3 separate regions of the Homo sapiens genome follow, and regions 2 and 3 are each linked to region 1. Evidence: fine-mapped expression QTL. A gene starts in region 1. Each other region holds a variant in brackets. All regions are shown on one strand. Distances are from middle to middle. Region 1 holds the start of PTGES3 (prostaglandin E synthase 3). Region 2 overlaps TIMELESS (timeless circadian regulator). Region 3 has its middle 3.7 kb from the start of PRIM1.

What was found. PIP is the estimated chance that this variant, and not a neighbour inherited with it, causes the effect. A credible set is the group of variants that fine-mapping cannot tell apart.
Region 2: its variant is the best candidate, but not a certain one, in a credible set for the expression of PTGES3 in whole blood (INTERVAL, PIP 0.82).
Region 3: its variant is the best candidate, but not a certain one, in a credible set for the expression of PTGES3 in monocytes (Quach 2016, PIP 0.69).

The regions. Positions count from the first base shown.
Region 1 is chr12:56,686,645-56,690,876 of GRCh38, reverse strand. PTGES3 (prostaglandin E synthase 3) reads left to right here and starts at 2,593. Exons shown (of 8, transcript NM_006601.7): 1 at 2,593-2,879. The coding sequence starts at 2,878. RefSeq lists enhancers at 605-1,130, 1,657-1,706, 2,183-2,708, 3,207-3,326, 3,437-3,486 and a silencer at 2,357-2,546.
Region 2 is chr12:56,424,367-56,428,598 of GRCh38, reverse strand. TIMELESS (timeless circadian regulator) reads left to right here. Exons shown (of 29, transcript NM_003920.5): 12 at 1-50; 13 at 194-363; 14 at 3,447-3,584; 15 at 3,686-3,837. Among named protein-coding and RNA genes, the nearest start is that of TIMELESS, 23 kb to the left of the region's middle. RefSeq lists an enhancer at 4,014-4,232. The variant A/T (reference allele first, on the strand shown) is at 2,481.
Region 3 is chr12:56,753,923-56,758,154 of GRCh38, reverse strand. No RefSeq gene overlaps it. Among named protein-coding and RNA genes, the nearest start is that of PRIM1, 3.7 kb to the right of the region's middle. The variant AAGAG/G (reference allele first, on the strand shown) is at 1,638.

The DNA.
Region 1 (4,232 bases):
CAGGCATGCGCCACCACGCCCGGCTAATTTTGTGTTTTTTAGTAGAGATGGGGTTTCTCCATGTTGGTCAGGCTGGTCTCGAACTCCCAACCTCAGGTGATTCGCCCGCCTCGGCCTCCCAAAATGCTGGGATTACAGGCGTGAGCCACCGCGCCCGGCCTCCAGGAGACATTTTTACCATTTTGCACCCTTTCCCTTTGACTTCCTAATACAAAATTAACAACTTCTAAGTTGTTATCTTATTAGAAAGCCCCCTTATAAAATAGGATTGTTCTCACCTTCAATTAACAATTTTTTTAATTGCTCAAATCAGTCTATAAAGTTCTCTTTTGCAATTTGTGACTCTGGACATATATTTAAATTCAGTCGTTACAGGAGGATCAATTGGACCCAGAAGTCAAGACTGCAGTGACCTGTGATACCACTACTGCACTCCAGCCTGAGTTAAAGTGAGACCCTGTCTCAAAAACATAAAAAAAAAAAAAAATTTAGCCTGACATTCAGTGCCACCATTATTTGGTTGTGACCTATTTTTTCTTTTCTTTTTTTTTTTTTTTTTTTTTTTTTTACACAGAGTCTCACTGTCACCAAGCTGGAGTACAGTGGTACAATCTAGACTCGCTGCAACCTGCGTCTTCCGGGTTCAAGAGATTCTCCCACCTAAGACTCCTGAGTACCTGGGATTATAGGCACACCACGCCCAGCTAATTTTTGTATTTTTAGTAGAGATGGGGTTTTGCCATGTTGGCCAGTCTGGTCTTGAACTCCTGACCTCGTGATCCGCCCGCCTCGGCCTCCCAAAGTATTGGGATTACAGGCGTCAGCTACTGCTCCTGGCCAAATATTTTGTATTTTTAGTAGGGACGGGGGTTTCACCATGTTAGCCAAGCTGGTCTTGAACTCCTGATCTCCAGTAATCCACTGGCCTCGGCCTCCCAAAGTGTTGGGATTACAGGCGTGAACCAGTGCGCCAAGTTAACTTCCTTTTTTTTTTTTTTTTTTTTTTGAGACCCAGACTCACTCTGTCGCCCAGGCTGAAGTGCAGTGGCGCGATCTCGGCTCACTGCAACCTCCGCCTCCCGGGTTCAAGCGATTCTCCTGTCTCGCTCTCCCGAGTAGCTGGGACTAGAGGCGTGTGCCACCACACCCGGCTGATTTTTTTTTATTTTTAGTAGAGACGGGGTTTCACCATGTTAGCCAGGATGGGCTCAATCTCCTGACCTCGTGATCTGCCCGCCTCTGCCTCCCGAAGTGCTGGGATTACAGGCGTGAGCCACCGCGCCCGGCCCCTTCCCTTTTTTTTTTTTTTTTTGACACAGGGTCTCACTCTGTCGCCCAAGTTGGAGTGCTCACTGCAACCTCCGCCTCCCGGGTTCGGGGTTCGAGCTATCCTCCCGCCTCATACTAGCTAGTATTTGGCATTACAGGCAAGTGCCACCACGCCCTGCTAATTAGTATTTTTAGTAGAGATGGGGTTTCACCATGTTGGGTGGGCTGGTCCTGAACTCCTGACCTCAGGTGATCCGCCCACCGAACTTCCCAAAGTACTGGGATTATAGGCGTGAGCCACGGGCGCCCCGCCCAATTTCCCTTTTTAATGGCATTTGAGCTAGGGTCCAGGTTTCGTAGCTCCCACTACCTGTCCTGCACAACACAGACACTAAATACCTTAGTGCTTATTATGAAGCCCCGTTCTTCAGAAAGGTTTTATAGCACTTTCGTTAAACCTCCTTCCTGTTCAAAATGCAGCGCACTAGAGTATTTTTCCCCAATCCACCGTTAAGCGGCTTCTTCTTAAGCAGGACTGTTTTGGGTCTCTTGGTTGCTACCCCTACTACACCCTACTAATATGTTGCACAAAGCGACGGGGAACCCCTTCTCCCCCAAACGATGTGCGTGGAAACACACAATGTCCTACTCTCTCCATTCCCAGAAACCTAGACTCTCCCCTCAAATACCTTTCCTGGCTCATCTACAGCACTAAGGTCTCAAGGTAGGGGCAAAAGCCCGCCCCAATTGGCAAATGCTCCTCCTCCGCCAAGAACCTCGAATTTCCGCTGTCCCTGGACAGAGCCTCCAACCTTCAGAAAAATGGCGAGGTGGACCCAGGCCCTTGATTCTGAAGTGAGCCCTTTTCCACAGCACAGGCTTTTTACAGGTTTTTGTGGTGGAATGATGACTCAGTGAGCTGATTTACTCCCTCAAGAGTAACCAACGCGCCATTTCAGTTCTCCAGGATCCCGACTCCGTGTCCCTCCGCCTCAGCCTTGCCTCCCACTGTCAACGCAACCGTTTCTCAGAGAAATCGCCGAAGGCGCATGGCAGGGCAGTTGGGCCACTAACGGTTTTCTAACGCGAGAAGACAGAGCGGGAGGAGAGGCGGGAACGCGTAGGGACTAGCAGGGGGCGGAGTGGGGGTGGGGTGGCGGACGAAGGGCGGGGCCGGCGCCAGGAAGGATCGCGAAGGAGCTGGGAGGCCCCGCCCTTTCCGTAGATATCTCTAGAAAGCCGCGCCGGAGCCCAAAAACAAGGACTGCGCACGCGCGGCGGCAAGGCCCGGGCATTTTGCTGCGTCACCAGCCGCCGCCCGGCCTCACCACCCCTCGTTTGCACGCACGCACGTTCATTCTCCGTCCTCGCGCCCCTTTTCCTACACTTTCCTCTTCTCCCCGACCGGAGGAGCCGCTCTTTCCGCGCGGTGCATTCTGGGGCCCGAGGTCGAGCCCGCCGCTGCCGCCGTCGCCTGAGGGAAGCGAGAAGAGGCCGCGACCGGAGAGAAAAAGCGGAGTCGCCACCGGAGAGAAGTCGACTCCCTAGCAGCAGCCGCCGCCAGAGAGGCCCGCCCACCAGTTCGCCCGTCCCCCTGCCCCGTTCACAATGTGAGTGCGACACCCCGCCGAGGGAAGGTCGCCGAGTGAGGCCGAGGCCGCGTTGGGGGCTCCCTGGAAGCGGCCCCCTAGCCTTTCTCGCATCGGTGGTGGCAGTCGTTCCTGCCTGGGGGCGGGAGGTCCAGGATCCTTGTTCCGGTTACCGTTGGCGGGTGGAGGACATTTTTCCTCCAGATGTCTGCTTCCCCCACCCCTGAACCGTTCCTTGGCTTCCCCATGCCGGAAATCCTACTTTTACCCCTTTGGCTGTCTGGGTTACTCGCCTCTTTCGGTAACTTCACCCTAGGCCTTAAGCTCCCGGTAGCTGCTCGCCATGCGGCGCCCTGAAGCGTGAACCTTCGTGGGTCGCCTCTCGGCTGCTTGGGCGCTCCGGTTCTGTTGCTTTGTGGTCCCGGGGCCAGGCCCTGAGTCGAGTGCACCTGTGGTGGGTGCCGCCAGGTGCCTGGCGGAGCTCCTGGGAGAGCCCCACGCGGACCTCGCCGTGAGCTGCAGGTACTGCTAGGCAACTAGAAGGAAGCCATGCCCACGCCGCAACATACTTCCCTCTCCAGTGTCTGGGTTTCTTGAGTGTGGGTACTTCCAGTCCGCCTCCTAACTCCAGTCTCTTGAAAACACGGGAGGTTGCCAAAACTCAGCCGCTTCCCTGGCAGCGAGGAGGAGTTACCATTGAGCAGGTAGTTCCGCACGTGTCGACTTTGGAAAGATACGGACATTTTCTGTGTTTCATGTTCTACTTGAGGTGAGGTTTCACTATCTTGTTACAGTGTAGGATGAAATAGGTATGTAGTAGGCATTTAATTAACCTACAGTCGTCCCAAAGATCTTAAATTTGTGTGGAGGTGAATACAGATTCTATGGCAGTCTTCATTTTACGATGATAAAGGAAAGCCTTGGCGATTTTAACCGGTAAGAATTCTTGGCACTGCCGCGTACAGTGGGAACTGCCGGTTTTACAGGGTTTTTTTTTTTTTTTTTTTTTTTTTGACGGGAGGTTATTTTTCAAGGTACTAACTACGTCCTAAAAGGTATGGAGAACAATTAAGGTGGAACCTTTTTTTTCTTTTGTTTTAGACTCCATTCAGAAGAGAGAAGAGGGGAGTGACTTTATGTCTTTGGAAAAGTAATAAGGATTTGCTTGATTCAAGTCATGATACTGAGGCTGAGTATATTGGCTAGAAATCTAAAGGGATGCGTGAGGCTGAAGCGAGTTTATCACTGGGAACAAGCTTCTAGAGCACAGCATGTTAGAATTTTTGAAGGAGCCCCCTCCCCGAAAGTGATACGTAATCGGGGTTTTAAAAAATTTGAATTAGGCTGGGCGCGGTGGCTCACAACTGTGATCCC
Region 2 (4,232 bases), 260 kb after region 1:
GGACATATCTCCAGATGAGGCTGTGAGGGAGAGCAGCCGCATCATCAAGAGTGAGGCCCTGGCCTGGTCCCCGATCCCAGCCTGTCCCATCTCGTGATGAGAATCTCATTCTTCCCAGTCCCAGCTTCATCCATCTCTCCTTTTCAAGCTTTCCAGAATAGCCCTTCCATCCCTTTCTCTTCCCCATTCCTAGACAATATTTTCTATGTGATGGAGTACCGAGAACTATTCCTGGCACTTTTTCGAAAGTTTGATGAGAGATGCCAGCCCCGCTCTTTCCTTCGTGACCTGGTGGAGACCACCCACCTCTTCCTCAAAATGTTGGAGCGATTCTGTCGGAGCCGTGGGAACCTGGTGGTGCAGGTACTGGGCAGCCCCACAATGTAGAAAGAGCTGTAAGGGAGAGTCAAGGAAGGGGGGCTCTTTCTTCTCACAGTTTGTACAGCTTAAGTTCATCTGTTAAACGTGCTCTGAACTACGACAGCAAGAGGTTTGTGGGTGTTGGCCAGTGTGAGTCTACTACAGTTTCCTTCTCCCATTAGAATAATCTCTGATCTGCCATAAATATTTTAGTTCAGTCAGGAAACATTTATTGAACACCTACCACATGCCAAGTACAAAAACCCTGGGGATTCATAATTTTAGAGTCTAATAATTATGCTATAGCATTTTCTGGTTATACCTTGAAAGCATTGTGGTGAGGTGGAAAGAGCCTTAAATTGCGGCCAGGCATGGTGGCGCACACCTGTAATCCCCGCGCTTGAGGAGGCCAAGGTGGGCAGATTACTTGAGGTCAGGGGTTCAAGACCAGCCTGGCCAACATGGTGAAACCCCGTCTCTACTAAAAATACAAAAATTAGCCAGGCGTGTTGATGCACACCTGTAATCCCAGCTACTCAGAAGGCTGAGACAGAATCGCTTGAATCCAGGAGGTGGAGATTGCAGTGAGCCAAGATCATGTCACTGCACTCCAGACTGGGTGACACAGTGAGACTCTGTCTCAACAGCAACACAAAGAGAGCCTTAAATTGAACTTTAGAAAGTCTGGAATCTAGTCCTGTATTGGTTATTATTGGAATAAGCTCAAGCTGGTCGTGTCGGTCTCCAGATCCATAAAGTTGGGATTGTGACAGTTGTCCATGAACCCAAAGTGGAATCAGTGAAAAGCCTAGGACAGGCTGGGCACAGTGGCTCATGCCTGTAATCCCAGCACTTTGGGAGGCCACAGTGGGTGGATCATTTGAGGCCAGGAGTTTGAGACCAGCCTGGGCAACATGACAAAACTCCTTCTCTACTAAAAATACAAAAATTAGCTGGGTGTGATGGCACGCACCTGTAGTCCCAGCTATTTGGGAAGCTGAGGCACGAGAATTGCTTGAACCCATGAGGCAGAGGTTGCAGTAGGCCAAGATCATGCCACTGCACTCCAGTCTGGGCCACAGAGCAAGACTCTGTCTCAACAAAAAACAAAAACAATTCACCAGCATGGTGGCACATACCTGTAGTCCCAGCTGCTCAGGAGGCTGAAGCACGAGGATCACTGGAACTTAGGAGTTTGAGGATGCAGTGAGCTGTGATTGAGACATTGCACTCCAGTCTGGGTGAGACCAAGACCCTATCTCTGAAAAATAAAATTATTGGTTCACATTAAAATAAAAAAAACCCTGGGACAAAATGCAAACTCCAAGGAATTTGTATCCTGGAAACACAGAGACTTTGCTTTGTATAAACAGATTTTGGGCCAGGCGCGGTGGCTCATGCCTGTAATCCCAGCACTTTGGGAGGCTGAGGCGGGCAGATCACTTGAGGTCAGGAGTTCACGACCAGCCTGGCCAACATGGTGAAACCCTGTCTCTACTAAAAATACAAAAATTAGCCAGGCATGGTCATGCGCACCTGTAATCCCAGCTTCTTGGGAGGCTGAAGTGGGAGAATCACTTGAACCCGGGAGGCGGAGGTTGCAGTGAGCCAAGATCATGCCATTGCACTCCAGCCTGGGCAACAGAGCAAGACTCCGTCTCAAAAAACAAACAAACAAACAAAAATTAGCCTGGCGTGGTGGCACACACCTGTAATCCCAGGTACTTGGGAGGCTGAGGCAGGAGAATCGCTTGAACCCAGGTGGCAGAGGTTGCAGTGAGCCGAGATCACGCCATTGCACTCCAGCCTGGGCAACAAGAGTGAAATTCTGTCTTAAAAAAAAAAAAAAAAAAGATTTTGTACCAGAACCTTCCTATAACTCTAGTTGCTACAGCTTAAAATTCTGTCATAACTGGACTTGAAAGATGCAGTAGTACCAACGAGACTTTGCTAAAGGGTATTTTTGCACTCAGAGCTCTGTGGTATTATCTGTAATACTAGGTACTATCATTTATTGAGCATTTACTGTGTGTCAGACACTGTGCTGACGTTTTCATGTAATCCTCACAGTAGCGCATGTGCCCAAAGTGGTTAAGCAACTTGTCCAAAGTCTTGTTAGT[A/T]ATACTAATTCAATACTCAAATCCAGATCTGCTGGACTCCATGCTCCTAAGTTTTGGTGTGTTTGATTGTAAGTTCTTTAATGGAGCATGACCTTCAGGGGCCTCTCAGTTCATCCTGTTTGACTTTTCAGTACCCACACCAAAGACTGGTTCACAGCCCTGACTTGGGAGAAGCAGGATTTGGGTATTGACTCACTCTCCTGCTTTTCTTTTTTTTAATTATTTATTTATTTATTTATTTTTTTAAGCAGGGTCTCGCTCTGTTACCTAAGCTGGAGTGCAGTGGCTGAATCTCAGCTCACTGCAACCTCTCCTTCCCGTGCCCAAGCGATTCTTCTGCCTCGGCCTCCCAAGTAGCTGGGACTACAGGTACACACCACCATGCCTGGCTAATTTTTGTATTTTTTGTAGACACAGGGTCTCGCTGTGTTGCCCAGGCTGGTCTTGAACTCCTGACCTCAAGCGATCCACCTGCCTAGGCTTCCCAAAGTGTTGGGACTACAGGTGTGAGCCACTGCGCCTGGCTGTCCTACTTTTCAGGAGAAAAAATTAGAGGCTTTATTTACATAGTGCTTTGCATTTTATGAAGCTTTTCCATGTGTCTTATTTGATCCTCATAGCATCTGCTTATTCTGTAGACCTCTTGAGATAGCACTGCTTTTGGCAAACCTCTGAACTCAGGAAATGGGTCAGGAGTTTTGCCATGACATCTTATGCTCACTCACATTATAGCTTTTATCCACACTCTAGTGTAATTACCTTTCTACTTCCTGTCTCCACCACTAGAGTAAAAGCTCCTCAAAGGGAAGGAAATATGCTGTTCACTATTGCTTTCTATTACCGATGGATAGCAGATAATGGGCACTCTGTGAATGTCCAGTTAATTAGTTTTGTAATAGAAAAGACACTGATGGGGAAAGCCCTCTTTAGCTCTCTTGACATCCTAATACAATTCTTTCCCCACAGAACAAACAAAAGAAGAGAAGGAAGAAGAAGAAGAAGGTCCTAGACCAGGCCATTGTTTCTGGTAATGTCCCATCTAGCCCAGAAGAAGTGGAGGCTGTGTGGCCAGCCCTGGCTGAGCAGCTACAGTGCTGTGCCCAGGTAGGTGGTTACAGAAACCCTGTCTTTTTTGAGAATAGTGCTCAGGGTATACAATCTGGGTTTTCCACTCCCTCCGCTCCCATAGCTTTATCCATCTCTAGAATTCTGAGCTCAGCATGGACTCCGTGGTTCCCTTTGATGCGGCCTCAGAGGTGCCAGTGGAGGAGCAGCGGGCAGAAGCTATGGTACGGATCCAAGACTGTCTCCTGGCTGGCCAGGCCCCACAGGCCCTGACTCTCCTGAGGTCTGCTCGGTAAGAACCCTGCCTGCTCATCCTCTTGGGCTTTGGGGGAAGGAGGAGGCCATCACTGCGGTACAGTGTTCTCAGTCTTCAAAAGAGAGTTGTCTCATCAAGGCTCTGGGACTGTATACCAACTGACTCCTGGGGCGTTTTGATTGGTTTGTTGGGTTTTTTTGTTTCTGAAAAACATTAAAAAAGCATAGTTAATTGAGAAAAAAATAAAGAAAGCAAATCCTCACTTGACATCATCAATAAGTCCTTGGTAATTGCAGCTTTGAGTAAAATGACCTACGGCATGTTTCTTATAACGTTAAGAGAAAAAAAACTGGTTTTGTTATACATTGTTTCACTTAAAGTGGCAGTATCCAAGAACCTATTGAAGACATTAAGGGCGGACTTAACTTTAA
Region 3 (4,232 bases), 67 kb before region 1:
TAGGATTACAGACATGAGCCACCATGCCCAGCTCATTCATTACACTTTTTTATTTGTGTCTATTGCCCCTAGTATGATATAGCTTTCTCAGAAGCAGAAATAATGTCATTAATTATTTTCCCCACAGTTCATCTCAGTGCCCAACACATATGTTCATTAACTATTTGTGGAATAAATGAATGAATTCATGAATGACTGAATCAACCATACCTTTACAGAATAGATCATCCTTTCAGATGCTAAAAACACCCAGAATAACAATAGGACTTAAACTAGACAGGCAATCAATGAGGCAAGTGTCGAAGTCTGCAAACAACATGGGGCAAGAAACTTGAGGCTGATAGATATACCACAAAAAAAGACTAAAAACGATGGTAGAGCCAGGTAGCATAAGGACTGAAGGAAAAAAGGGGTTTGCACCTATGTGTATGAAATCACAAAGGGAAACAAACTGAATGGTGATACTGCCTCCCAGTGGCATTTGAGATAAAGGCCTCTATGCCAGAGCACTTTTTTTTTTTTTTTTTTTTTTTTTGAAATGGAGTCTCACTCTGTCGCCAGTCTGCAGTACAGTGGCGCCATCTCAGCTCACTGCAACCTCCGACTCCCTGGTTCAAGCGATTCTCCTGCCTCAGCCTCCCGAGTAGCTGGGACTACAGGCACATGCCACCACGCCCGGCTAGTAATTTTTTTGTATTTTTAGTAGAGATGGGGTTTCACTATGCTGGCCAGGCTTGTTTCAAACTCCTGACCTCATTATCTGCCTGTCTCGGCCTCCCAAAGTGCTGGGATTACAGGCATGAGCCACCTGGCCTGGCCCGTTCCTCTGAATATACTTAATATACCCGAGGTGGGCTGATTGCTTGAGCCCAGAAGTTCGAGACCAGCCTGGACAACACGGTGAGATCCCATCTCTACAAAAAATAAAAATAACAATAAATTTAAAATTTAACCCTTTTCCCATTTGCCCCAAGAATACTTGCTGGCAGCACTTGTAGCTGCAGCATTTATCCAGAGATAACTTTGCCGTGAAATATCTTGCTTTTATTATTTTCATATTGCTCTAGTATTACTGACTTTGGAAACAAAAGACATCATTCTATTAACAGCATTCTGTTTTCAGTAGTGGTACTTCCACTTACAAAATACAGTAATTCTGATCATTAAAACTGTCAAATCCTAGAAAATGCTGAATTCCTATGTATGATGTTAACATCATTCTTTGATTAATCCACAATTCTAATTATTCCAATGACTTTAATGTTAGTTCTGTTTAGAAATAACTCCAAGAGGCCAGGCGCAGTGGCTCCCACCTGTAATCCCAGCACTTTGGGAGGATGAGGTGGGTGGGTCGCCTCAGGTCAGGAGTTCAAGACCAGACTGGCCAACATGGTGAAACCCCATCTCTACTAAAAATACACAAATTAGCCGGGCATGTGGGCAGGCACCTGTAATCCCAGCTACTCAGGAGGCTGAGGCAGGAGAATGGCTCGAGCCTGGGAGGCAGAGGGTGCAGTGAGCCGAGATTGCACCACTGCATTCCAGCCTGGGCGACTGAGCGGGACTCTACCTCAAAAGAAAGAAAGAGAGAGAAAGAGAGAGAGAGAGAGAGAAAGAAAAAGAAAGAGAAAGAAAGA[AAGAG/G]AGAGAGAGAGAGAAAGAACTCCAAGAACAGTTTTTATATTTTATTTTCACATTGGAAATCAGTCAGATTTGTTTCAGCCTCAAAGAGCATGCTTATGTAAAATTAAATGACTGCTGGCAGCGAGCTGCACTTTTTCCTTCCAAACAGGAAAAGCGTTAAAAAAAAAAAAAAAAAAAAAAAGAGGCTAGGCGTGGTGGCTCACGCCTGTAATCCCAGCACTTTGGGAGGCTGAGGCGGGTGGATCACAAGGTCAGGAGATCGAGACCATCCTGGCTAACATGGTGAAACCCCATCTCTACTAAAAAAATACAAAAAAAATTAGCCGGGCGTGGTGGCGGACACCTGTAGTCCCAGCCACTCAGGAGACTGAGGCAGGAGAATAGCGTGAACCCAGGAGACGGAGCTTGCAGTAAGCCAAGATCGCGTCACTGCACTCCAGCCTGGGCGACTGAAAAAGACTCCGTCTCAAAAAAAAGAAAAGAAAAGAAAAAGAAAATAGGGATGATGTTGGCAACTACCGCATAGAGTTCTCATGAGGGATAAATTCATAAAATGGTACCTGACATCATGGCAAAAGCTATATACAGGAATACCTCATTTTATTGTGCTTCACTTTATTATGCTCCAAAGATATTGCATTTTTTACACATTGAAGCTTTGTGGCAACCCTACATACAGTGAGTCTATTAGTGCAATTTTTCCAACAGCATGTGTTTGCTTCATGTCTCTATGTCACATTTTGGTAATCCTTGCAATATTTCAAACTTTTTCATTATTATTGTATCTGTTACGGTGATCCGTGATCAGTGATCTTTGAGGTACTATTGTAATTGTTTGGGGGTGCAACGAACTGTGCCTATATAAGAAGACAAACTTAATCAATAAATGTTGTGTGTGTTCTGACTGTTCTGCCAATATGCTGTTCTCCTCTCTCTCTCCCTCTCCTCAGGCCTCCCTATTCCCTAAGACACAACAATATTGAAACTAAGCCAATTAACAACCCTACAATGACCTCTAAGTATTCAAGTGACAAAAAGAGCCCCACATCTCTCACTTTAAATCAAAACGTAGAAATGATTAAGCTTAGTGAGAAAGGAATGTTGAAAGCTGAGACAGACCAAAACCTAGGCCCCTTGCACCAAGCAATTAGCCAAGTTGTAAATACGAAGGAAAAGTTCTGTTTTTTTGAGACAGGTCTCAGTCTGTTGCCCAGGTTGGAGTGCAGTGCCCTAATCTTGGCTCACTGCACCCTCCGCCTCCTGGGCTCAGGTGATCCTCCCACCCCAGCCTCCCAAGTAGCTGGCACCACAGGCCTGCGCCACCACACCTGGCTAATTTTTGTAGTTTTTGTAGAGATGAGGTCTCGCTATGTTGCCCAGGCTGGTCTCAAACTCCTGGACTCAGGCAATCCTCCCACCTTGGCCTCCCAAAGTGCTGGCATTACAGGCGTGAGCCACTGCACTCGGCCTTAAATTTGAGACAGAGTGTTACTCTGTCACCCAGGCTGGAGTGTAATGGCACGATACTGGCTCACTGCAACCTCTGCCTGTCTGACTCAAGTGATCCTCCCACCTCAGCCTCCTGAGCAGCTGAGGCCACAGATGCATGCCACCACACCCTGTTAATTTTTCTGGGCTTTTTTGTTTGTTTGGTTTGGTTTGGTAGAGACAGGGTTTTGCCATGTTGCCCAAACTGGTCTTGAACTCCCTGACTCAAGCGATCTGCCCACCTTGGCCTCCCAAAGAGCTGGGATTACAGGTGTAAGCTATCAGGCCTGGCCTGGAAAAGTTCCTTCCCGGAAAAGTTCCTGAAGAAAATTACAAGTGCTACTTCAGGGAACACACAAATGATAGGAAGGTGAAACAGCCTTATTGCTGATATGGAGAAACTTTTAGTGTGCTGAATAGAAGATCAAACCAGCCATAACTTCCCTTAAGCCAAAGCCTCACCCATAGCAAGGTTACTCTCTTTAATTATATGAAAGCTGAGACAGGTGAGAAAGCTGCAGAAGTTTGAAGCCAGCAGAAGTTGGTTCATGAGGTTTAAGGAGAGAAGCCATCTCCATAAGATAAAAGTGCTAGACAAGGCTAGAGGTAGTGGCTCACACAAGTAATCCCAGCACTTTAGGAGGCCAAAGCAGGTGGATCACTTGAGGCCAGGAGTTTGAGACCAGCCTGGCCAACATAGTGAAACCCTGTCTCTACTAAAAATACAAAAGTTAGCTGGGTGTGGCAGTGCACACCTGTAATCCTAGCTATTTGGGAGGCTGAGGCATGAGAATTGCTTGAGCCTGGGTGACCAAGGTTGCAGTGAGCCATGATTGTGCCACTGCATTCCAACCTGGGCGACACAGCGAGACTCTGTCTCAAAAAAATAAGTAAAATAAAATAAAACTATGTTTTTCATGTGACATGTTATTCATGTGACTGCCCACTCTAGCCCACAATTGCCATAAGGTATCATTACACAGTAAGAGTGATTGGCAGATCTCCACATCAATAGCAGATGGGTTCCCTTCATACTTGTAAAGCTCTCCATGATTCTGCAAGCTTCCTATAATTCATATTTTCTTATACCTGGGTGTTCTATT